Linked DNA regions of Homo sapiens: all the other regions are linked to region 3. Evidence: fine-mapped expression QTL. A gene starts in region 3. Each other region holds a variant in brackets. All regions are shown on one strand. Distances are from middle to middle.

Evidence for each region. PIP is the estimated chance that this variant, and not a neighbour inherited with it, causes the effect.
Region 1: its variant is fine-mapped to the expression of THBS3 in whole blood (INTERVAL, PIP above 0.99).
Region 2: its variant is fine-mapped to the expression of THBS3 in whole blood (TOPMed, PIP above 0.99).

What each region holds. Positions count from the first base shown.
Region 1 is chr1:155,891,911-155,899,910 of GRCh38, reverse strand. It overlaps RIT1 (Ras like without CAAX 1), which reads left to right. Exons shown (of 6, transcript NM_006912.6): 6 at 1-2,103. It also overlaps the pseudogene LOC124904686. Among named protein-coding and RNA genes, the nearest start is that of RIT1, 15 kb to the left of the region's middle. The variant C/T (reference allele first, on the strand shown) is at 4,401.
Region 2 is chr1:155,704,136-155,713,147 of GRCh38, reverse strand. It overlaps DAP3 (death associated protein 3), which reads right to left. Exons shown (of 13, transcript NM_004632.4): 2 at 3,324-3,375. The coding sequence starts at 3,368. Among named protein-coding and RNA genes, the nearest start is that of DAP3, 20 kb to the right of the region's middle. The variant G/A (reference allele first, on the strand shown) is at 4,201.
Region 3 is chr1:155,203,138-155,211,137 of GRCh38, reverse strand. THBS3 (thrombospondin 3) reads left to right here and starts at 3,241. Exons shown (of 23, transcript NM_007112.5): 1 at 3,241-3,340; 2 at 4,732-4,938; 3 at 5,822-6,078; 4 at 6,181-6,283; 5 at 7,599-7,625; 6 at 7,833-7,915. The coding sequence starts at 3,262. MTX1 (metaxin 1) reads right to left here and starts at 2,443. Exons shown (of 8, transcript NM_002455.5): 1 at 1,806-2,443; 2 at 723-792; 3 at 511-590. The coding sequence starts at 2,333. It overlaps THBS3-AS1 (THBS3 antisense RNA 1), which reads right to left. Exons shown (of 6, transcript NR_183238.1): 6 at 5,649-6,103. RefSeq lists a silencer at 1,894-2,093 and an enhancer at 3,457-4,240.

The DNA.
Region 1 (8,000 bases), 690 kb before region 3:
CAAATTTCAGCAGATACCTGTGAGGCTGACACCTGTTGCAGACTATGGAGTGGTGAGATTTGGGAAAGTTGGGCTATATGTTTGCAGGGACTTAAAAAGGTAGGTTCAGAACAGTATTCTCAGTACAAGCTTCGCTTTTCTAAGAAGTACACATTTGGCCCAAATTCACCGGGATAAGTGAGAACAGCCAGAAGCATAAAATGTGATGAAGGTTTCTCCTGGGAACCTTATTTTACTCTTCATTTCAGGGTTTTCTTTTTTTTTTTACCTTCAAAGGTAGACATTTTGGGAATCATAACTGTATTACTAAACGTGTTTAATCAAAATTCATAGTTGGATCAGCCATTGCCTTGTACAGGTTTATTTTTTCCCCACAGACGCACACACCAACACATTTATATTCATTGCTTCCTCCCACTTTGTGCTCTGTAAAAGAGCTACAGCTGGCAAGATGTTTTTTCGGCCCTTCATCACTGATTGCATTTTCCATACAGAAGAGACATCAGGGGTGTGGGTAAAATTGTGTGTGTGCCTCCTTGACGTGGACAATCACTAGACTCAGTGCTCTGAGAAAATCTGCTATTTCTGTTGAATGGGTCAGTCTTAAAGCTTTAAAATTCACATAGGTGGAGTTTCCCATCTGAAGATTTCTTTACAAGGACTTTGCTAAGTTCATCTCAGGGTTATCTGAGCCTTGACCAAGTTTATCCTAAGGGAATACCACTTTGCTCCCTGTGCATAGTTTAGGAACTGTAGTCCTAGGAGGAAACAGCTTTAAATATTGGTAGTGAGTTGTCTAAGATCAGGACTGTTTTGATATCTGACCTTGTTATATGCGGAGAGTAAATGCAAAAATGCTAAGAGTAATGCATCATGTATTGAATATTAAGTGTCACTGAAGCAATGTTTGTGTTGACTAGAAACGTAAGATGACTTGTGTAGCACCTCTTTATAAGCACACAGCTCATCTTAATATTTTCCATTTTTATTAGAGGAAGTAGGACAGAGTTGTGTTTTTCTTTATAAACAAATGATAAACTAGCTTTTTTAAAAAGTGACTGTTAGAACTTTTTTAGCTCTGAGTAGTGGTCCCTTTTTAAACTCCTGGAAACATTTTTGTTACCAAATAAATCATGTTTTATGGTACTCAGCCATCCAAAAGTGAAAGACCTAGCATTTGATTCTGTGCAGGACACAAATCTCACAGGAACTATAGCACTTTGGAAAAGCATCAAAGTAGAAAAGAAATACAGTGCAATTCTATTATGAGAATGTTTTACATTTAAACTGGTTTAGCACCTTTTAAGTTTAAAGCCCATAGCTTCTTATTACTAGTGACCTAGGGAATTGTTATTAACATTAAGAGATATATATATATATATATATATATATTTTTTTTTTTTTTTTTTTTTTTTTTTAAATAGAGATGAGGTTTCACTATGTTGCCCAGGCTGATCTCGAACTCCTAGGCTCAAGCAATCCTCCCAATATGCTGGGATTACAGGCATGAGCCACCACCTGGCCCAAGCAAGAAATTGACACTATATAGTTATTTAAGGTAGTCAGGCAGTAGAAACATTGCCAGAAGGATAGAAAGGAATTTGGATTATATATAAGGAAAATAACAAATCGGTGTTTTTAAGACTATCACTGTCATATATTAGATCCTTGTATTAGTCCATCCATTAATATTAGTTCTATTCGTGGTGCTAGGTAGCTTGACAGGTATGATATGCATAAGTCATAGCTCTATTCTTAGTGTCATAAAGTGTAGCTAATTTATAAGCTCTAAGTAATCAGCTTTATCTAATTTGAGGGCATTAAAATTACTGCCTAGAACTTTGAGAAGAGAAAAATTCAGGGATAAGTTGAAAGGCACTGGAACTGTTCATGTCCATACCAGACCGGTAAATTATAAGATCCAGATGTTAGTGTCTAGAATTAGCTGTTTAGAATTCAGAGGGGACATATGTTTTAACTTTGTCATATATTAGCAAGAATTGGTCTACTGTGATGTTTGGGGAGGAGGAGGGGGGGATAATTTTTTTAATGCACTTGTATGTGAAGACAGTTTGTATGACATAATACAAAACTTTTAAACAACTTGGGCTTTCCTTTGCTTCCCTATCAGTGGGTAGAGTTTTTGGAATCATTGCAAAAGAGTTGTTTTCAGAAAAACATAACCATGAGATGTGATATTCTGGAAAATATGAATTCAAAAAATTTGAGTGCCCACCATGAACAAGACACCCATGTCAAGTGCTAGGGAGCATGCCATGGAATCCCCCTTCATTTGAAGAGATTACCTCTTGGGAGGAGACAGGAAAAACACATATGGAAAATGACAGCACATTTGCTACCTGATCAAGGGTTACTTAAAGTTGTTATAAGTAAATACACTAAATGAAAAGTGAAAGAATGATTTTTTTTTTTTTTTTTTTTTTGAGACAGAATCTCGCTCTGTCGCCCAGGCTGGAGTACAGTGGCGCGATTTCGGCTCACGGCAAGCTCCGCCTCCTGGGTTCACGCCATTCTCCTGCCTCAACCTCCCAAGTAGCTGGGACTACAGGCGCCCGCCACCACACCTGGCTAATTTTTTGTATTTTTTAGTAGAGATGGGGTTTCACCATGTTAGCCAGGATGGTGTTGATCTCCTGACCTTGTGATCCACCCGCCTCAGCCTCCCAAAGTGCTGGGATTACAGGTGTGAGCCACCGCACCCAGCCAAGAATGATAACTTTTTACCTGAAGGTCATTTAATCTCCATTACTGTAAATGGCCACCAGTGTTGGTAGAGAGGACCTAATTTGAACGTTAAACAAATGGATTTTTTTGTTTTGAGACAGAGTCTTACTCTTATCACTCAGGCTGGAGTGCAGTGGTGTGATCTGGGCTCACTGCAGCCCCTGCCCCCCAGGTTCAAGTGATTCTCCCATCTCAGCCTCCTGAGTAGCTGGGATTACAGGTGCGCACTACCACGACCAGGTAATTTTTGTATTTTTATTAGAGATGGTTTTGCCATGTTGGCCAGGTTGGTCTCAAACTCCTGACCTCAAGTGATCCACCCTCCTCGGCCTCCCAAAGTGCTGGGATTATAGGTGTGAGTCACTGTATCTCGCCTGTCTTTGGTTTAAAAAAGACAGTCTCCGTCTGCTAGGCTGGAGTGCGGTGGTGTGATCATGGCTCACTGTAACCTTGAACTCCTGGGTTTAAGTGAAAGATCCTCCTGCGTCAGCCTCTTCAGTAGCTGGGACTACGGGCACATGCCACCATGCCGTGCCAAATTTTTACATATTTTGTAGAGGCGGGTCTCAAACTCCTGGCCTCAAGCAATCCTCCTGCCTCAGCCTTCCAAAGTGCTGGGATTACAGGCTTGAGCCACCTCACCTGGCCCAAGAGTGGATTTTTATGTCCTCATTATTATTTAAGTTTTTTTTTTTTTTTGAAACAGTCTCACTCTGTCGCCCAGGCTGGAGTGCAGGGACACCATCTCAGCTCAGTGCAGCCTCTGCCTCCCGGGTTCAAGTGATCTTTGTGCCTCAGCCTCCCAAGTAGCTGGGATTACAAGCATGTGCTACCACGCCTGGCTAATTTTTTGTATATTTAGTACAGACAGGGTTTCACCATGTTGGCCAGGCTGGTCTCAAACTCCTGGCCTCAAGTGATCTGCCCGCCTTGGCCTCCAAAGTGCTGGGATTGCAGGTGTGAGCACTGCACCCTGCCTATTTAACATTTTTGAATGGTCAGTAACTGTCAGTGTCCACTAGAAACAGGTACTGGAGGAGTGGCATTCCATTTTTCTTTCCGTCTCTTTTTTTTTTTTTTCTTCACTTGATTTAAAAAATCATTCCCCTGGTCGGGCACAGTGGCTCATGCCTGTAATCCCAGTACTTTGAGAGGCCAAGACAGGTGGATCACGAGGTCAGGAGTTCAAGACCAGCCTGGCCAAGATGGTGAAACCCTGTCTCTACTAAAGATACAAAAATTAGCTGGGCGTGGTGGTGGGCGCCTGTAATCCCAGCTACTCGGGAGGCTGAGGCAGAGAATTGGAATTGCTTGAACCCGGGAGGCAGAGGTTGTGGTGAGCTGAGATTGCGCCATTGCACTCCAGCCTGGGCAACAGAGCAAGACTCTATCTCAAAAAAAAAAAAAAATTGTTCCCCTCTTTGATTAAATTACTCATACTTAATGGCATTCCATTTTCTAATGTAACCTCTGTTAGAATAAGTAATGGAATTTCAGGTGAAGTATTTATAAGCCTCTTCCATGTATTAAGCACTGTTTTAAAGAGCTGTGAAGGATTCAGAGGAATATAGAATACGGGCTGGCATAGTGGCTCATGACTGTAATCCTAGCACTTTGGGAGGTGGAGGTAGGCAGTTTGCCTGAGCTTAGGAATT[C/T]GAGACCAGGCTGAGAAACATGGTGAGACCCCATCTCTACTGAAATACAAAACAAAAAAAAAATTAGCTGGGTGTGGTGGCCCACACCTGTAATCCCAGCTACTCTGGAGGCTGAGGCACAAGAATCACTTGAACCCAGGGGGCGGAGGTTACAGTGAGCCAGGATCGTGTCACTGCACTCCAGCCTGGGCAACAGTGAGACTCTGTATTTAAAAAAAAAAAAGTGTATATATATATTTTTTTTGTACATGTATATTGTATATATATATACACCAAAAATATATATATGTTATTCCTGCTCTGGAGCTTAGATAAAATTTATATATGTAGCCAGGTGCGGTGGCTCACGCCTGTAATCCCAGCACTTTGGGAGGCTGAGGTAGGTGGATCACGAGGTCAGGAGATCGAGACCATCCTGGCTAACATGGTGAAACCCATCTCTACTAAAAATACAAAAAAAATAGCCAGGCGCGGTGGCGGGCGCCTGTAGTCCCAGCTACTCGGGAGGCTGAGGCAGGAGAATGGTGTGAACCTGGGAGGCAGAGCTTGCTGTGAGCTGAGATCATGCCACTGCACTCCAGCCTGGGCAACAGAGCAAGACTCCGTCTCAAAAAAATAAATAAAATTTGTATATATAAAACAGCTAGAGGTCAGTCTTAAAGTAATAAGTCATATGCTTCAAACTGGAAATGTTATAGGAATTCAAAAAGGAAGGAATTAGTAAATGTAGTAGACTCCTAATAAGTCATTGGTAGTGTTATGCCTTTTCCAAACTCGTACAGAAATTTGAAATCTTGCCAGGCACGGTGGCTCATGCCTGTAATCCCATCACTTTGGGAGGCTGAGGCAGATGGATCACTTATGGTCAGGAGTTCAAGACCAGCCTGGCCAACATGGCGAAACCCTGTCTCTACTAAAAATACAAAATTAGCTGGGTGTGGTGGCATGCGCCTGTAATCCCAGTTACTTGGGAGGCTGAGGCAGGAGAATTGCTTGAACCCGGGAGGCAGAGGTTGCGGTGAGCCAAGATCGTGCCACTGCCCTCCAGCCTGGGCGACAGCAAGACTCCATCTCAAAAAAAAAAAAAAATTTTTTTTCAATCAACTTTTGTTTTTTAAGTTCAGTCTCCATAGAGATTGTCAAAAATTGCCAATGCCAGGGTATTGGGAAAAGTTTTCAATTAGCAATAATCATGCCTCATTGGCTATAATCCTGTCACTGTACAAAGCTGTCCAATCAACTTTTAAACATATGCCAGGCACAGGGCTCACGCCTGTAATCCCAGCAATTTGGAAGGCTGAGGTGGACAGATCACAAGGTCAGGGATTCAAGATCAGCCTGACCAACATGGTGAAACCCCATCTCTACTAAAAATACAACAAAAATTAGCCAGGCATGGTGGTACGCGCCTGTAATCCCAGTTACTCGGGAGGCTGAGGCAGGAGAATCACTTGAACCCGGGAGGTGGAGGTTGCAGCGAGCCAAGATTGCGCCACAGCACTCCAGCTTGTACGACAGAGCGAGACTCCATCTCAAAAACAAACAAACAAACAAAAAACCATGAGTTGGCCTTGAGACAAAACTACTGAAATGTTTTAGCTTTATCTAATAATGTTTGCTTAAAAAAAAACTCATGATGAGCAGCTTTTGGTTCAGTGCATACATTCCACAGCACACGTGATCATATCATGAAGTCACTCAGTTTTTTGAACAAAAGCTGCTGCAGTGGGGACATGTGTCATTTCCTGCCCTTCCTGGAGCTAGTTATTGCCAGAGTTTATTGCAGTTTTCTCTGAGCCAGAAGAAAAACTTTAGCTCCAAAACATCTCCCACAAAATGCTTTCCCTAGTTTCCTGGCAGAGGAGTGTGCAGGTGAGGGGGCAGAGGCAGAGAAATGTATGGCTTTTATGAGGATGGGTCCAAGTGCTCAATACACTGCAATCCAACATAAAATCTCTGCTGCCCAGGAAGGCATGTACATCAATCTAGTCAGCCAGAGAATTAAATTGTGCATTCCCACCCAAAACATTCTGGACACTCTTATTTTCATGTCCTTAGACTCCCGAAGAGAAATACATGGGTCTAGTTGCAACTAACACACACCTACCACCATCATCAAAAAACACAAAACCAAAACCGATCATTATACCAAACTTCTTTTGAAACTCCAACTCAGAATAAGTAGGAAGAAGAGACAGCCTTTTCAGGTTTGCTTTAAGTCTGCTTCCCAGACAATATTTTGTTCCCTGCCTGCCTGCCTTTCTTGGGTATCCGCTGCATGCCAAGCAATGTGTTGGCATTGGGAATTCAACAGTGAATTTAAAAAAAAGCTCACAGTTCTTAGAGTCTCAGTTCTTTTCAGTGGGCACCTCTAATTCTAACGTGCAAAATCTGACACAGATTTGGATTGAATGGTGGGAGAATGAGAAGGAGTAAGGGACACATAGCAATTTCAACTGCTTGGTAAACAATAACTAAATGTTAACTTGGAAAAAAGCCTGAGAAGAAGCTGATTTGATGTGAGTGAATGTAAATCATGAAAATATCCAGTTTCATCCGGGTGTGGTGGCTCATGCCTGTAAACTCAGCACTTTGGAATGCTGAAGTGGTACGGTCACTTGAAGCCAGAAGTTCAAGACTAGCATAGGCAACATAGCAAGACCCCCATCTCTACAAAAATTTAAAAACTAGCTGGGTGTGCTGGTGTGTGCCTGTAGTCCCAGCTACTTGAGAGGCTGAGGTGGAAGGATTGCTTGAGCCCAGAAGGTGGATGCTGCAATGAGCTATGATTGTGCCGCTGTACACCTGCCTGGGTGACAGTGTGAGACCCTGTCTCAATAGATAGATAGATGATTGATTGATAAATAGATAGATAGATAGATAGACAGACAGACAGATAGCTACATAGGCTGGGCGTGGTGGCTCACGCCTGTAATCCCAGCACTTTGGGAGGCCGAGGCAAGAGGATTGCTTGAGCACAGGAGTTCCAACCAGCCTGTCTCCACAGAAAATTTTTTTAAGTTAGCCAGGTGTGGTAGCACGTGTGTCGTGGTGGTGCATGCCTGTGATGCCAGCTACTCAGCTACTTGGGAGGGTGAGGTGTGAGGATTAACCAAGCCCAGGAGGCTAAGGCTGCAGTGAACCATGTCACTGCACTCCGGACTGGGCAACAGAGCAAGACCCTGTCTCAAAATGTAAATAAGAAGAAAGAAAATGAGTTTTTCTCCTTATGGCCCTGTCAGAGGCTTTCAATTAGATTGAGATTTAATGTACTGTCTGGGCATGGTGGCTCATGCCTGTAATCCCAACACTTTGGGAGGCTGAGGTGGGCGGATCACCTGAGGTCAGGAGTTCGAGACTAGCCTGGCCAACACGGTGAAACCCCGCCTCTACTAAAAATACAAAAATTAGCTGGGTGTGGTGGCACATGCCTGTAATCCCAGCTACTCGGGAGGCTGAGACAGGAGAATTGCTTGAACCTGGGAGGCAGCGGTTGCAGTGAGCTGAGATCAGGCCATTGCAATCCGGCCTGGGTGGCAGAGCAGGACTCTGTCTCAAAAAAAAAAAGTAGTATTTGAGGTGAACTAACCAGCTCCCCAG
Region 2 (9,012 bases), 500 kb before region 3:
CACCTTAAAAGCTATATGTTGCGATGTATCCCAAGAAGGTAAACTTTTGTCCCTCCATCCAGACTTCAGTCTTGCTTGCAAAGCCTTTTTGAAAGACAGGAACAGCAAAAACAAAGCAAAACACATACACACAACACAAACAATATCCTTTGTGTTAGGCCACTGAGAATACAAGGCTTGTTACTTCAGGGTAGCAATCTGAATAACACACCCTAGTACTACTTAAACGCTACTCAATTTTATCTACCGGAGAGAAAGCACCATGCCTCTTTAGCTGGAGAGAAAGCAGAGTGGAAAACAAACTATTCAAGGGTCACAAGGTGGTCCTATTTCTACAGTAATGTGATGACATTTTTGTTACACTTTTTTTTTTGACATAGGGTAGGGTCTTGCTATATTGCCCCGGACAGTCTCAAATTCCTGGGCCCACATGATCCTCCTGCCTCAGCCTCCCAAGTAGCTGAAACTACAGGTACTTTTTGAAGCAAATTAAAAGCTAGCAAAATGGAATCTTTTTTTTTTTTTTTTTTTTTTTGAGACGGAGTTTCACTCTTGTTGCCCAGGCTGGAGTGCAATGGTGTGATCTTGGCTCACTGCAACCTCTGTCTCCCAGGTTCAAGCGATTCTGCTGCCTCAGCCTCCCGAGTAGCTGGGATTACAGGCATGCGCCACCGCGCCTGGCTAATTTTGTATTTTTAGTAGTGACGGAGTTTCTCCATGTTGGTCTGGCTGGTCTCGAACTCCCGACCTCAGGTGATCTGCCTGCCTTGGCCTCCCAAAGTGCTGGGATTACAGGTGTAAGCCACCATGCCTGGCCTACAGCAAAATGGAATCTTTAGTTCTTAAAGTTTTATATATGTTATCACTCAAGTAGACTGTTGTTTCCAGAGAAAACAACCATCTGTACAATTGCCTCTGTACAGTTCCAGAATGAACATCCTGCAGTTTCTGAAAGAGCATTTGTGAGCCAATCTAGAAGATCACCGTGATGGTTAATATTAAGCGTCAACTTGATTGGATTAAAGGCTGTAAAGTATTGTTCCTGGGTGTGTCTGTGAGGGTGTTGCCAAAGGAGATTAACATTTGAGTCAGTGGACTGGGAGACGCAGACCCACCCTCAGTGTGGGTGGACACCATCTAATCACCTGCCAGGGCAGCTAGAATAAAGCAGGCAGAAGAAGGTAGGATGAGCCGACTTGCTGGGTCTTCCAGCCTTCATCTTTCTCCTGAGCTAGATGCTTCCCGCCCTCGAACACTGGACTCCAAGTTCTTCAGCTTTTGGACCCTTGGACTTACAACAGTGATTTGCCAGGGGCTCTCAGGCCTTTAGCCACAGACTGAAGACTGCACTGTCAGCTTCCCTACTTTTGAAGTTTTGGGACTTGGACTGGCTTACTTGCTCCTCAGCTTGCTCACGGCCTACTGTGGGACTTCGCCAGATGGTGTGACTCAATACTCCTTAACAAACTCTCCTTCATATATACTTCTATCCTATTAGTGCTGTCCCTGTAGAGAACCCTGACTAATACAGTCACCCTGAACCAAACTAGTAAAAAAAAAAAAACAAAACTTTCTCTCACCAACAGCACTCTACAGTCTAGCCTCAGGTCTTTGTTGTCTGTTATTAAGAAAGAGGAAATTTTTTTTTTTCTTTTGAGATGGAGTCTCGCTCTATTGCCCAGGCTAGAGTGCAGTGGCGTGATCTTGGCTCACTGCAACCTCTACCTCTTGGGTTCAAGCGATTCTCTTACCTCAGCCTCCCAAGTAGCTGGGATTACAGGCGTGTGCCACCACACGCAGCTAATTTTTGTATTTTTAGTAGAGACGGGGTTTCACTATGTTGGCCAGGCTGGTCTCAAACTGCTGACCTCAGGTGATCTGCCTGCCTCGGCCTCCCAAAGTGCTGGGATTACAGGCATGAGCTACTGTGCCCGGCCGAGAGAGGAAATTTATTTTAGCCTTGTAATATGATCAGTTGAGTCCAGAATCCATCCCTCTGCTGATCCTTGCTTTCGTTTCATTTTATAATAATGGGTTATTTTATGTATTAATATATAGGCCTGAGGGAAGGGGGCACATGCAGGGGGAGCCATATAGGAGGAAGGGCTCCTTTTCTAGGAAATCTAATCTGTAATTAAATAATCAGCTGAAAATGACCAAGTCTTTCTGGCTCAGTTCTGAGCCTTTCAGGATCTCCTGCTGACTCGACTAATCCCGCTCAGGTGCTCCTCTTTGGTGCTGTAAGAGCACCATACTGAAATAGTCATTTTTTCATGATTCTACTGGACTGTAAGCTTCTGGAGAACATGGACCATAAAATGCAATAGAGCACAGTGGTTAGGCCACAGGCTTTGAAGTCAGACAGACCTGGCATCTCGTGTGGGCTTTGCAACCTCACAGGCTATTTCCTCAGGTAAGTTACCTAGCCAGTCTCATCTTTAGTTTCTCCATCTGTGAAACAAGGATATTATCTCGTTCATGGGTTGATCATGAGGATTAAAAAAATAAATCACTTAGTGTAGTACCTGGCACATAATAATACCCAACAAATAATAACTATTATTAGTGAAATGAGGCATCTTAGAATTCTGAGTACCTGCCATATAGAAGGTACTGAAGGCCGGGCACAGTGGCTCACGCCTGTAATCCCAGCACTTTGGGAGGCCTAGGTGGGCAGATCACGAAGTCAGGAGTTCGAGACCAGCCTAGCTAATATGATGAAACACCGTTTCTACTAAAAATACAAAAATTAGCCGGGCATGGTGGCAAGCGCCTGTAGTCCCAGCTATTCGGGAGGCTGAGGCAGAAGAATAGCTTGAACCCAGGAGGCAGAGGTTGCAGTGAGCCGAGATTGCGCCACTGCACACTCCAGCCTGGGCAACAGAGCGAGACTCTGTCTCAAAAAAAAAAAAAAAAAAGTACTGAAAAACTATTTGGTAAATATGTGAAAAAATGAAGTAAACCAGCAGAATGGTCTTTTTCATGTACAATTTTATTTTTTATTCTATTTTAGATGCTAAAGCTGTAAATTGGCAACTTGTTTTTCTTTTAAATACTTCATTAAGGGATGATAACCATTCTCTAGTTGGCTAGAGAAATAAAGTTAATAAAGATAATTACAGTCAAACTTACTTATGTTTTCTGGAAAAATATTAATTCTCCTATTCCATGGTAAATTCTCAAGCACAATTATTCTACTGAAACCTGTTACATATGAAGTTTTCCAGAGCATTTCACTCTAGATACAATGAATCCATCTGAAAACAAGAATCTGGGAACCTAAAGGCAGTATGCACAGAGTGTTCAGGTCAGTCAGGACTCACCTTATGGATCCTAGAGATAAGCCTTGTTATTCCTTTCAGCATCATCCTTGCACTGTTACAAAAAAAAAAAAAGTGAAAAGGTAAACCACAAATGGGAAAAGATGTGTGCAACATGGAAAACTGACAATAGATTAATAGGGATTAATAATCTATATTAATATCTAGAATATATAAAGAATGCCTACAGCTTCATTAAAAAAATGAGCAAAAGGCATGAACAGGCATTTCACAGAAAACGAAACACAAAAGGCTAGTGAACCCATGAAAAGATTTTTGAACCTCATTACAAATCAGGGAAATGCTAATTAAAATGATGAAAACCAGATACCATTCACAATCATCATACTGGGAAAATAAAAAAGTCAGGCGGGACACAGTGGCTCACATGTACAATCCCCACACTTTGGGAGGAACACTTCTCGGGGCTGAGGTGGGTGGATTGCTTGAGCCCAGGAGTTCAAGACTGGCCTCAGCAACAAAGTGAGACCCTGTCTTTACAAAAAATATAAAAATTAGCAGGGCATGGTAGTGCATGCCTGTAGTCCCAGCTCCTCGGAAGGCCGAGGCAGGAGGATCACTTGAGCTTGGGAGGAGGTGGAGGTCACAGTGAGCTGAGATGCACTACATTCCAGCATGGATGACAGAGTGAGACCACCTCAAAAAAAAAAAAGAAAATAGGCCAGGTGTAATGGCTCATACCTGTAATCCCAGCACTTTGGGAGGTCAAGGTGGGCAGATCACTTGAGGTCAGGAATTCGAGACCAGCCTGGCCAACATGGTAAAACTTCATCTCTACCAAAAAATATTTTAAAAAATTAGTCGGAGGCCACGCGCAGTGGCTCACGCCTGTAATCCCAGCACTTTGGGAGGCCGAGGC[G/A]GGCAGATCACGAGGTCAGATCGAGACGGTCCTGGCTAACACGGTGAAAACCCGTCTCTACTAAAAATGCAAAAAAATAGCTAGGTGTGGTGGTGGGCGCCTGTAGTCCCAGCTACTTGGGAGGCTGAGGCAGGAGAATGGCATGAAACTGGGAGGCGGAGCTTACAGTGAGCTGAGATCATGCCACTGCACTCCAGCCTGGGCGACAGAGCAAGACTGTGTCTCAAAAAAAAAAAAAAAAAAAAATTAGTCAGGAGTGGTGATATGCACCTGTAGTCCCAGCTACTCTGGAGGCTAAGGCAGGAGGATTGCTTGCATCCAGAGGTTGCAGTGAGCTGATATCACACCACTGTACGCTAGCCCAGGTGACAGAGTGAGACTCTGTCTCAAAAAAAAAAAAAAAAAAACAAAAACAGAAAAAGAAAATTAAAAAGTCAGACAATAGCAAATGTTAAATAGGCTGCGAAACATTACATTGTATTCAACTTTCATACATGTCAATGAAAGTATAAATACACTATCTTTGCAAAGTTGAAAATGCACAAAACAAAGTTGAAAATACACTATCTTTGCAAAGTTGAAAATGTACAAACAAAAAGTTGAAAGTGTGGTGGCTCAAGCCTGTAATCCCAGTACTTTGGGAGGCCAAGGCAGGTGGATCACCTGAGGTCAGGAGTTCAAGAGCAGCCTGGCCAACATGGTGAAACCCAATCTCTACTAAAAATACAAAAAATTAGCTGGGCGTGGTGGTACACACCGGTAATCCCAGCTACTCGGGAGGCAGAGGCAGGAGGATTCCTTGAACCTGGGAGGCAGAGGTTGCAGTGAGCCGAGATCGTGCCATTGCATTCCAGACTGGGCAACAAGAGTGAAACTCTGTCTCAAAACAAAAACCAAAACCAAAACTTCTACATGTACACTGGGAAATATATATAAGGAGGTTCATACTAGCAGAGTATGAATTATAAAAAAACTGTAGAAAAAACTAATGTCCCTTAGTAGAACAGTAGATAGAGACAGTCATAAAATGGAATATTAGAAAGCAATTAAATGAAAAAATTACCATTGCATGCATCAACATGGATCTCAAAAATGAATACTGAGTGAACGCTATTACATCTGGCATGACATAACATATAAAATTCAAAACCAAAAAGCTTCATTAATTATTTGGGGGATATAAATAGGAAAACTGAAACAAAAAAGCAAGAGAATGATAAAAACAACATTTAGAATAATGGTTACTCCTGGGGAGAAGAAAAGGGAAGAAGATTGGGGCAGGGCACACAAGGAAACTGATAATAAACTAACACTGGATAATGGATACATGAGAATTTATTATTTTCATATCATGTGTATTATATTCATTTTTTTGTATACAGGAAATATCTAATTTAAAAGCCCGAATCTTTTGGAGCTAAGAGGTTTAAAATACTTAAATGTAACTCTCAATATCCAGTAGTTATGGAATAACTGAATTAAATGTCTATGTAATTAATTAGTTCATTTTGGCTATAAATTTTTTTTTTTTTTTTGAGACGGAGTCTTGCTCTGTCACCCAGGCTGGAGTGCAGTGGCGCGATCTTGGCTCACTGCAAGCTCCGCCTCCCGGGTTCACGCCATTCTCCTGCCTCAGCCTCCCGAGTAGCTGGGACTACAGGCGCCCACCACCACGCCCCGCTAATTTTTTGTATTTTTAGTAATGACGGGGTTTCACCATGTTAGCCAGGATGGTCTCGATCTCCTGACCTTGTGATCCTCCCGCCTCAGCCTCCCAAAGTGCTGGGATTACAGGCGTGAGCCACCGCGCCTGGCCTATTATAAATTTTTTTTGTTTGTTTTGTTTTGGTTTTTTTGAGATGGAGTTTCGCTCTTGTTGCCCAGGCTGGAGTGCAATGGCATGATCCCGGCTCACTGCAACCTCCACCTCCCGGGTTAAAGCGATTCTCCTCTCAGCCTCCTGAGTAACTGAAGTTAGAGATGCCAGCTACCACGCCCAGCTAATTTTTGTATTTTTAGTAGAGACAGGGTTTCACCATGTTGGCCAGGCTGGTCTCGAACTCCTGACCTCAGGTGATCCACCTGCCTAGGCCTCTCAAAGCGCTGGGATTACAGGTGTGAATTACCACACCCGGCCCCCTTGGCTATCATTTTCACCTTTCTTTATTTTATTTTATTTATTTATTTATTTATTTATTTTGCGATGAAGTCTTGCTCTGTCACCCAAGCTGGAGTTCACTGGAACCTTGCCTCCCCGGGCTCAAGCGATTCTCCTGCCTCAGCTGCCTAAATAGCTGGGACTACAGGCATACACCACCATGTCCAGCTAATTTTTGTACTTGTAGTAGAAACGGGGTTTCACCATGTTGGCCAGGCTGGTCTTGAACTCCTGACCTCAGGTGATCCTCCCACCTCAGCCTCCCAAAGGGATTACAGGCGTGAGCCACCGCACCCAGACACACCTTTCACAACCCAAATCTTTAAAGCAACAATAATAACAACCATAGAGTTGCAACCAATTAACCCAACAGTTACTGAGCACCTACTGTGTGTCAGGCTCTGTGAATGGAATGGTGAACAAACTATTATAGTCCCTGATCTTATAGTCAAGGAATTTATAGTACAGTCAAGAGAATCACATAGGCTGGGCATGGTGACTCATGCCTGTAATATCGGCCCTTTGGGAGGCGGGGATGAGAAGACTGCTTGAGCCCAGGAGTTTGAGACCAGCTTGGGTACATAGTAAGACCGCCAATTCCACAAACAAAAGAAAAAAATTAATTAGTTTGCCAGGGTGGTGCAGGACTGTAGTCGTAGCTACTTAGGAGGCTGAGGCAAAAGGCTCACTTGAGGCCAGGTGTTAAAGAGCTATGATCATGCCACTGTACTCCAGCCTGCATGATACACTCAGATCTGGTCTAAATAAATAGATAAATAAATGAAAAGAGGCCAGGTGCAGTGGTTCATACCTGTGATCCTAGTATTTTGGGAGGCCGAGATGGATGGACTGCCTGAGCTCAGGAGTTCAAGACCAGCCTGGACAATATGGTGAAACCCTATCTCTACTAAAATATAAAAAATAAGCCTGGCATGGTGGTGCATGTCTGTTTTCCCAGCTACTCAGGAGGCTGAGGCGGGAGAATCGCTTGAACCCAGGAGGCAGAGGTTGCAGTGAGCTGAGATTGCGCCATTGCATGCCAGCCTGGGTGACAGAGCAAGACTCCATCTCAAAAAATAAATAAATAAATAAATAATATTTAAAAATAAATAAAAAGAGAGAGAGAATAACATAAATTCCTTTCATTTTATTTCCTTTCTGTTTTTTTTTTCTTTCTTTTTTTTTTTGAGACAGGGTCTCGCTCCATTGCCCAGGATGGGGTGCAATGGCAAGATCACAGCACACTGTAGCCTCAAACTCTTGGGTTCAAGTGATCCGCCTGCCTCAGCCTTTCAAGTAGCTGGGAATATAGGTGCCATTGCCTGGCATATTAAAAAAAAAATTTTTTTTTTTTTGGGTAGACATAACCCTTGCTATGGTGCCCAGGATGGTCTTGAACTCCTGGGCTCAAGTGATCCTCCTGCCTCAGCCTCCCAAAGTGCTGGGATTACAGGTGTGAGCCACCATGCTCTGCTTCAACTTTATCACATTTGTTATTTTTCTTGAGACAGGGTCTTGCTCTGTCATCCAAGCTGGAATACAGTGGCACAATCACAGCTCACTGCAGCCTCGAACTCCCCTGCTTAAGTGATCTTCCCACCTCAGCCTCCCAAGTAGCTGGAATTACAGGCACGTGCCACTGTGCCTGGCTTTTTTATTTTGTAGAGACAGAGTCTCATTATGTTGCCAGCGATGGTCTTGAACTCCTGGACTCAAGTGATCCTCCCACCTCAGCCTCTCGAAGTGCTGGGATTACAGGTATGAGCCATCGCACTTGGCCTTAAATATACTGGATTCGTTTGTTTATTTCTGAGATGGAATATTGCTCTGTCGCCCAGGCTGGAGTGCAGTGGCATGATCTCGGCTCACTGCAACATCCACTTCCCGAGTTCAAACAGTTCTCCTGCCTCAGCCTCCCAAGTACCTGGGACTACAGGCGCCCGCCACCACGCCAGCTTATTTTTGTATTTTTAGTAGATACAGGGTTTCGCCATGTTGGCTAGGCTGTTCTCAAAATTTTGACCTTAAGTGATCCTCCCGCCTCAGCCCCCCAAAGTATTGGGATTACAAGCATAAGCCACCTGCCCAGCCATACTATTTAATGAAGACGCCAAAGCACTCCTAAACTCAGTCATTCAAGAAGCATATGACATGCTTCCACACGCCCACACTACACAGAGTCTATAGTGGTGAATAAGACTGGGATGGTCTCTACTGGCCTGCCTGCCTTTTCACTTGTGGGATTTCAGGGCTCCTTTTCTAGAGTGCAATGTCACTCCAATAGTATTTGACCTGCCCCACTGTGCTCCCCAGATCTTCTCAATGCTCCCCGGCACAACCACTACTGGAAGAGCTGTGGACTAGGAAGCAGGCTGGGTACTGGAGAGGAAGGAGTGTGTGACATGGTCCAGATGCACTTCTTTCCATAGGCGTGCCTGTGGACACTGGAGCTATTATTTTGCCTATGTTATAGACACTATGAGAAATGACGGTCAGAACGTGTAATCAGCTTCCGTTCTAGGACACTATCATCTTGAACCCAAATTAAAATAAATGATCTACCAGCATCCAGACTTAAACATTTTCTCCACTGAAGCCTTGCTTAAAATTCTTCAGTATTTCCTCACTACTTGATTATTTTGTGAGATCGGGTC
Region 3 (8,000 bases):
GGCCCAGCCCTCTAGTTTTACAAATAAGGGAGTGCACAGCCCTGAGAGGTTACATGGCCTGCCCGAGATCACATAGTCAATGGCAGAGTAAAGAGCATAGCCTAGGCCTCCCCACTCCTCTAGTAATGCTCTTTCATCTTCTCCAACCTGGCTCTAAGCCTTGTCCATCCTGAGCCCCATATCTAGCCCAACCTAGTCCCTGAAAACAGGAAGTGGCCCTTAGAAATCTCTCTCCAGTCCCACCATCAGAGGCCAACTGCTGTCTTCCACTCTCCTTCAGCCTGTGCTCCTCTCCCTCCCTGCCTCACAGTGCCCTAAGTTTCATCTCTTGCCGACTGCTTTAATACATCACAGTGACATTGTGTGTGTCTCTGCCACAAGACTGTTGCTCCTTGATGCTCTGGGTCACCTGCATCTAGCATGGCATATATCTGGTGCTCAATAAATGTGTATTGTATAGAATTGACTGAACTTCTCTCACTGGCAGCCCCCTCTATCCAAGTCACCTACCTCTTTTCGAAGGTGGGTGATGATCTTGTGTGGAACTGAGATGACCTCTCCATGACTGGTCCGAAGGGCAGGCAGAGTTCCTGATATTGAGAGGGAAGTATACCAACCAGACCCTTAGCTGCCTAGTCATACATAGTTGCAACACATTCCTGCCTATTTCTTGCTTCTCCCCTTGTACACACCCTTCCTTACCCCCAAGGGATACTGGGTACCTGAAGGGCTCTGCCAGGGGTTGCTGATCTTGTGTACCTTCAGTGGAGCACCAGTAAATCTGGCATAGGTCTGCAGGGAAGGAAGCAGAAGTCAGAGAGGCAGAGCCATGTCCCCCACAGTGGTATCAAGAAGAGAAATAACATTTATTGAATACCTTATGTGCCATTCCCTATACTTAGTATCTTAGTCTCGAAAAAAAAGGGGGAGTCACTACCATTTCTATTTTACAAATGGACAACACAGGGCTCAGAGAGATTCCGGACATGTCTGTGATTACAGGACAGCCAGGAAAATCCTTTCCTCTATCTCCTCTCTTGCCATCTACCTGGTGAACATCTATCCTCAGAAGCTTTTCCTAACCAGTATCCCTCTTCTTGGAAGCACTGATAATGCCCTTCTCTTTGGCAGTATCTGTGGTCTGTTCCTACTTTAACTTATATGTGAATATTTTATTATATTTATTTGCTTACCTATCTGCCTTTCTGTAAACTCGAAGGGAGGAACCAAATTTTATTCATCTTTGCCTGGCAATGTTTAATATTTGGAAGAAATCTAATAGATCCTCTTTAAAGCAAGGAGTCAATGAATAAATGAAGCAAAGGAAGTCTGATTGCTAAGCTCTTTATACAAAGCCTGGCTGTGAGTCGTTTGGTCTAACAAACAATAGCCTCAGTAAATGCTGTTAAGTGAGGAGGAAGAGGAGAAGGGGGCTGAGGAGAAGGCAGGAATTCCAAGCTAGAGTAGGTCCCTGAGACAGTCCAGCCTAGTAAACCTCCGAATGGAGAAAAAAAATGCCCAAAGAGAAAGGATCTCCGCAAGGTCACACAGCCAGTGAATGGATGAGCAAGGACTAGAACCCATCACCTGAACTCCCAACCAGGCGTCTTTTCATTGCTGCATTAAGCCTAGAAAACTACAGCATAGGGCACTGAGGCCATATCGGCCACGTACGCTCTTTGACTGCCTCAGTTTCCCCCACTGCGCCCGTGCTGAGTAGCCCTGGCAAGGTTTGGATGCTTGGCTAGTTCGGCCCCCTCCCCAGTCATCAGGGCACAGCAGAGGGCGCCGGCGCCACCCCTCACCAGCACGGCCAGGCTGTCCAGGTCCACTGACGGCAGCCCCCAGCCCCCTGACCAGCAGAACAGCTCCATGGGCGCCGCCATCTTGCCCACCCTCTGTCCCGGAAACACTTCCTTGTGTGCTTCTGCCCTCCCCTGCCTGGGCCCGCCCCCCGCCACCGCCCCTCCGATCGTTGCGGTCAGGGGGCCTGGGGAGATCCCCGGGGAGGCGAGGCTTCTTCTGGCCCGACTGGCAGCTGAACTGCGGGGGACTGGGCCGCGGGCCTCGGGGGAGGGCGGCCGCCGGCCCATCCAGAGGTGGCCCACGTAGCGGGACAGCGCTGTCGGCCCGGCGCGCCTCGGAGAGTCACGGCGCCTCGTCCAAGTGGAGCCCCGAACCCCTGAAGGCGCGGCAGGCTCTGGAGAGCGGGGTCTTGTGCGCCTGGGCCAGGTCTGGGGGCTCTTGCCAAACTGCACGTGGCCTGTACTGCTCCAGGGCCCCTTGGGGCTCGTCCCCGAGCGGGGACTGCGGGGGGGTCCCCCGAGCAGCATGTTTTCCACAGCGCGTTATGTTTGGAGCGGGCCCTGCGCCGCCTGTCGCCATGGAAACAAAACAGGGGCGGTGGCGGCGGCCGGAGCGGAGGCCGGGCTGGGGCTTGGGTGGGGGAGGGGAAGAGAGGCTCGCAGGCTGTCGCTTAGGTGACGGGAACTCAGGCGCCCCTCTGCTTCATCCGGGTCACGGCCCGTCCGCTAGTACCCACAGTGTTCCACAGTCTGGTCCTTGGCTCCTCGCCTGTACCCCTGGTCTTCTGCGCCTGTCCCTGGTGTCCCTTTCCTCTTTTTTGGTTTCTTCACTCTGACCTCACTGACCACTGCTTTAGATTCTCCCTTCAGTTCCCGTCAGACGCTTCCAGACTCCCAAGCTTTCCTACGAATGAGGGAAAATGGAGAAACAGGCACTTGTCAGGGGACCCCCCACCCTAATAAAGAGCACTTGCTCCGCCAGAACAGCAAAATTCATGCCATGTGGGCATCCCTGGGCACTATAGCAAGCTAGTTGCGGCCACTCCCTTGGCATCCTTTCCTGCCAGCTGTGGAATAATGCCCACTGTCTAGCACTGCCCCTGCCAGGGGTTCTTGCCTTCCACAATCGTGGCTTCCAGAAAACAGTGGCATTCGGTAGCGCTGTGTGCCGAGACCCCCAACAATGATGACTGCGGAGAGGGAGGCACCTGGGGGAGGATCATTAGGGAGAGGTAGAAAGCAGGGAGGCCTCCAGGATTCTTTCCCAGTGCCCCTGGTTCCCAGAGCTGATGATGCCTCCAGGGTGATTGGCAGCTCTTTGTTTCAGCCCCCCCTCACCCGCCTGCTGGCCCCCCCTCCAATTCTGTCCCTCCGCCCCCCGGCTCCTGCTCTCTCCGCCTAGCCTTTTCCCCTCCCAGCTGCCTGCCTGCCAGGGGTAGTGAGCCGGCTGAGAGGCATGGAGACGCAGGAACTTCGGGGGGCCCTGGCTCTTCTCCTCCTTTGCTTTTTCACATCTGCCAGTCAGGATCTGCAGGGTAAGCCTGTCTCCATCCTCTTAGACCGCTCTCTGCTTCTTCCCCATTTGCCCTCAGCCCAAGTAGCAGAGAACATGTGGGCAAGGGGAGAGGGGAAGAGTCCAGAAATTGAGCCAGAGGAAAACTTAAGACTGCCTAGAGTTGGTGAAATTATGGCCTGGTGGAGAGGAGTGGGCACCGGAGAGTAGTGGGGGAGCTGGAACAGGACAGGGTCAGGCATGAGGCCAGGGCAGAGGACTCAGGAACTGGATGCTCAGGCTGCCTGGCTGGGGTGGTTCCTGAGCATCTGTAGGCACCCTAGGGTCTGGGAGAGCAGCCTGAAGGTGGGCGTACTGTAGGTCCCTGGGCTTCGTCCCCCTGGGCTCCTGGCTGCCCAAGGACAGGGCGGGGGTGGGGACCAAGAAGCCTGGGCTCTCCCGGAGGTCTGGTGGTGGGATGGGCCGATGGATGTGGGAGAGGTAGCTGGAGCAGATGACACAGGCATAGATTCTTTACTGGCTGGAGGGAAAACCACAGATTGGCCAGGACACAGGAGGCAGAGGAGCTGGGTCCTACATTCCCGTGGGAGATAGCCCAGATGGTGGGAGGGTTAGAGTCCTCAGTGGGCAGCTGTTCTTATCCAGAGCGAGTGTGCTGCGCCCCTAGGATGGGAGGAGGGGAACTAGGGTGTGGAACGAGCCAAACCCAGGAGTGGAAAGAGAAGCTGCCTTCCATTTCTACGTTGTGGACACCAGGTGCCACTCCTGTGGGGGATCAGCACAGCATCTCCTTTGCGCCACCTGGTGGGGGCATCTCAAATTTGTGGGGTGCTGTTTCTGTGTTTCCAAGTGAGTCTCAAACCTGCAGGTTCCTGGAAGGTAGTAATAGGCAATAATGGGGAAAGGAAGGCACAGTGCCTCTGTCCTCTGAGAGCAACAAGGGTTGAGGTTTTTTTTTGTTTTCGTTTTGTCTTTTTGAGATGGAGTTTCACTCTTGTTGCCCAGGCTGGAGTGCAATGGCGCGATCTCGGCTCACTGCAACCTCCACCTCTCAGGTTCAAGCGAGTCTCCTGCCTCAGCCTCCTGAGTAGCTGGGATTACAGGTGCCCGCCACCACGCCCGGCTAGGTGGTTTTTTTTTCTTTTTTGTTGTTGTTTTTGTATTTTTAGTAGACACGGGGTTTCACCGTGTTGGCCAGGCTGGTCTCGAACTCCTGACCTTAGGCGATCCACCTGCCTCAACCTCCCAAGGTGTTGGGATTACAGGTGCGAGCCACCATGCCCAGCCAAGGGTTGAATTTTGAGGTGACTAACGCTGCCTGGTGGTGGGGGTAGGGGGTGATGTGGGCTCGGGGGAGGGCATACCTTAGCATTTGATCCCATTCTCTAACCTTGATAACCCCTGCCTGACCAGTAATTGACCTGCTGACTGTGGGCGAGTCTCGGCAGATGGTAGCTGTGGCAGAGAAGATCCGGACAGCCTTGCTCACTGCTGGGGACATCTACCTCTTATCCACCTTCCGCCTGCCCCCCAAGCAGGGTGGTGTCCTCTTTGGCCTCTATTCTCGCCAAGACAACACTCGATGGCTGGAGGCCTCTGTTGTAGGCAAGATCAACAAAGGTGACTGGTGGGCATCTCCTTTCTTGCAATGGTGACCTCCTTAAGCACTCTCCCTCATCCCTACTTCCCAAGTGCTTCCTCATTCTCCTTGGCCTCCACTAGGGACCAAGGTCCCATCAGGCTGTGCCCAGACATCAGGGGCACCTGGTATGGGGTGCTTATAAGGTGCTTTAGGAGCCCATGTACCAAACAATAGGGTGAGGCTTGAGTCCTGATATTTATAGGGATGGGAGGTTGTACTTGGGGATGCCTGGAAGGAGGGTGAGGCATGTCTCTGTGCCTCAGCGGTGATACAGAAAGGTCTTTCAGATCCCTGGAACAGGTCAGTGGCCACAAAACCAGCTGTCACCCTAGGAGAGGATACAGTCATCTGATACCAATGAAGACTAAGAAAGTATTTGTCTCTAAACCAATTATTTTTTTAAATGGAGTCTTGCTTTGTCACCTAGGCTGGAGTGCAGTGGTACAATCTCAGCTCACTGCAACCTCTGCCTCCTGGGTTCAAGCAATTCTCCTATCTCAGCCTCCTGAGTAGCTGGGACTACAGGTGCCCACCACCATGCCTGGCTAACTTTTGTATTTTTAGTAGAAACAGGGTTTCGCCATGTTGACCAGGCTGTTCTCGAACTTCTGACCTCAAGTGATCTGCCCACCTTGGCCTTCTAAAGTGCTGGGATTACAGGTGTGAGCCACCGTGCCTGGCCTCTAAAGCAATTTCAAAAACATTTATTGTGTACCTATTAAATACAAGGTGTTGAGAGCCACATAGTAGAATTAGGGATAGGGGCCCTAGAGATGTGGTATCTAGCAGAGTTGATCCAAGGCTCAGCTGGGAGGCAGGGGGTGGGGGATAGCGCCCATACTGATCTCCCCTCCTGGGCAGTACTGGTGCGATACCAGCGGGAGGATGGCAAAGTCCACGCCGTGAACCTACAGCAAGCGGGCCTGGCTGATGGGCGCACACACACAGTTCTCCTGCGACTCCGAGGTCCCTCCAGACCCAGCCCTGCCCTACATCTCTACGTGGACTGCAAACTGGGTGACCAACATGCAGGCCTTCCAGCACTGGCCCCCATTCCTCCAGCGGAGGTCGATGGGCTGGAGATTAGGACTGGACAGAAGGCGTATTTGAGGATGCAGGTGAGCCGGGAGGAGCCTCTGAGTTCTGTGGAAATAGAGTTTGCACCAGCTGGGGAAGGGGTTGGTAGACCTTCCCACCTTACTCTGCTGCTATCCCCCCAGGGCTTTGTGGAATCTATGAAAATTATTCTGGGTGGGTCCATGGCCCGGGTAGGAGCCCTGAGTGAGTGTCCATTCCAAGGGGACGAGTCCATCCACAGTGCAGGTAACACAGAGACTTGTTTGCTGACATTGGACCACGGATCCTGTGGCCTTTGGTGACTCCTGTCTTCTTGATCTCCCTCTCCCTTAAAACCCATTCCTTTGGCTCACCTGTTCCTAGGGTTTCTAACCCTGTTATTCCAAATCTTTCACCTGACTCCACAATCTCCAATACACCCATCCGAGAAAAAAAGTGATCTAAGAGAAGAATTGGTTAATTGCTTGGCCTTGGCTGACCAAGAGATACTGGTCTCGAGTATTTTTTTTTTTTTTGGTGATGGAGTCTTGTCCTGTTGCCCAGGCCGGAGTGCAGTGGTGCAATCTGGGTCACTGCAGTCTCCACTGAGTTCAAGTGATTCTCCTGCCTCAGCCTCCCAAGCAGCTGGGATTACAGGCGCCCTCCACCATGCCTAGCTAATTTTTGCATTTTTAGTAGAGATGGGATTTCACCACGTTGGCCAGGCTGGTCTCAAACACCTAATCTCAAGTGATGCACCCACCTCGGCCTCTCAAAGTGCTGGGATTACAGGCGTAAGCCACCGCGCCCGGCCTGGTCTCGAGTCTTTTATAGTTCTCACTGGCAGCTGTCACCAGCAATTTCTCTGAGTGTTGCCCATCTGCCTGGTCTCTCTGACAGGGATGTTCAGAAGCTCTCACCTAAATAAAAGACCCACCTTTCCCAGATATTTGAGGGAGAGCTCTTGAAGAAGGGAATGGGATGGCGGGTGTGGTGGCTCACACCTGTAATCCCAGCACTTTGGGAGGCTGAGGTGGGCTGATCCCTCAAGGTCCGGAGTTCAAGACCAGCCTGGCCAACACTGTGAAACCTCCTCTCTACTAAAAAATACAAAAAATTAGCTGGGCATGGTGGTGGGCACCTGTAGTCCCAGCTACTTGGGAGGCGGAGGCAGGAGAGTTGCTTGAACCCAGGAGGTGGAGGTTGTGGTGAGCAGAGATCACGCCACTGCATTCCAGCCTGGGAAACAGAGCAAGACTCCGACTCAAAAAAAAAAAAAATGGGGATATACTGGGGCCCTGGCCCTGCTTTGGGTCCATCCCTTCTGCCACTACCATGCCTAGGAACCAGGAGGATTTGGGTTCTAACTTCCTGTGAAGCAACTCCCTTAGAGGGCCTTTTGCCCCATAGAAGGAGCTGGCACTGCTTGTCTGCCAGCTCTGCCCTCCCAGCATCCAGCACCCCATCTTTATTCTGGGGCTCCAGCCCTGTCCCTGTCCTCACCTTCCTTCCTCCTTCTCACCAACCAGGCCTCTCTTCACTTCACCTCACCCCTCTGACTATGTTTTCTTCTCCTCTCCAGTGACCAATGCACTGCACTCCATTCTAGGTGAGTAGGCCACACTGAAGCGGAAGCGGGGAGCGGGGAGGAGGCCCCAGGCTCTGGCAGCTGCCTGAAACTAAGTCCTCTTCAGTCAGGAATGTAGTAGGTTTAAAGGCAGGGGTGGGCAGCCGTGGCAGGTACTGGCTTATTGCCCATGGAGGGCCCAGGACTGGTGCTCCAGTACTGAACCCCTCACACCCTGGGTCCCGACAGGGGAGCAGACCAAGGCGCTGGTCACCCAACTCACCCTCTTCAACCAGATCCTGGTGGAGCTGCGGGATGATATACGAGACCAGGTTTGGGTGGGCTGGCGAAGGGTGGCACTGATTCTGGGGTAGGGTGGCAGATGTCAAGTGCTGACTCCTCCCCATCCTTCTCCAG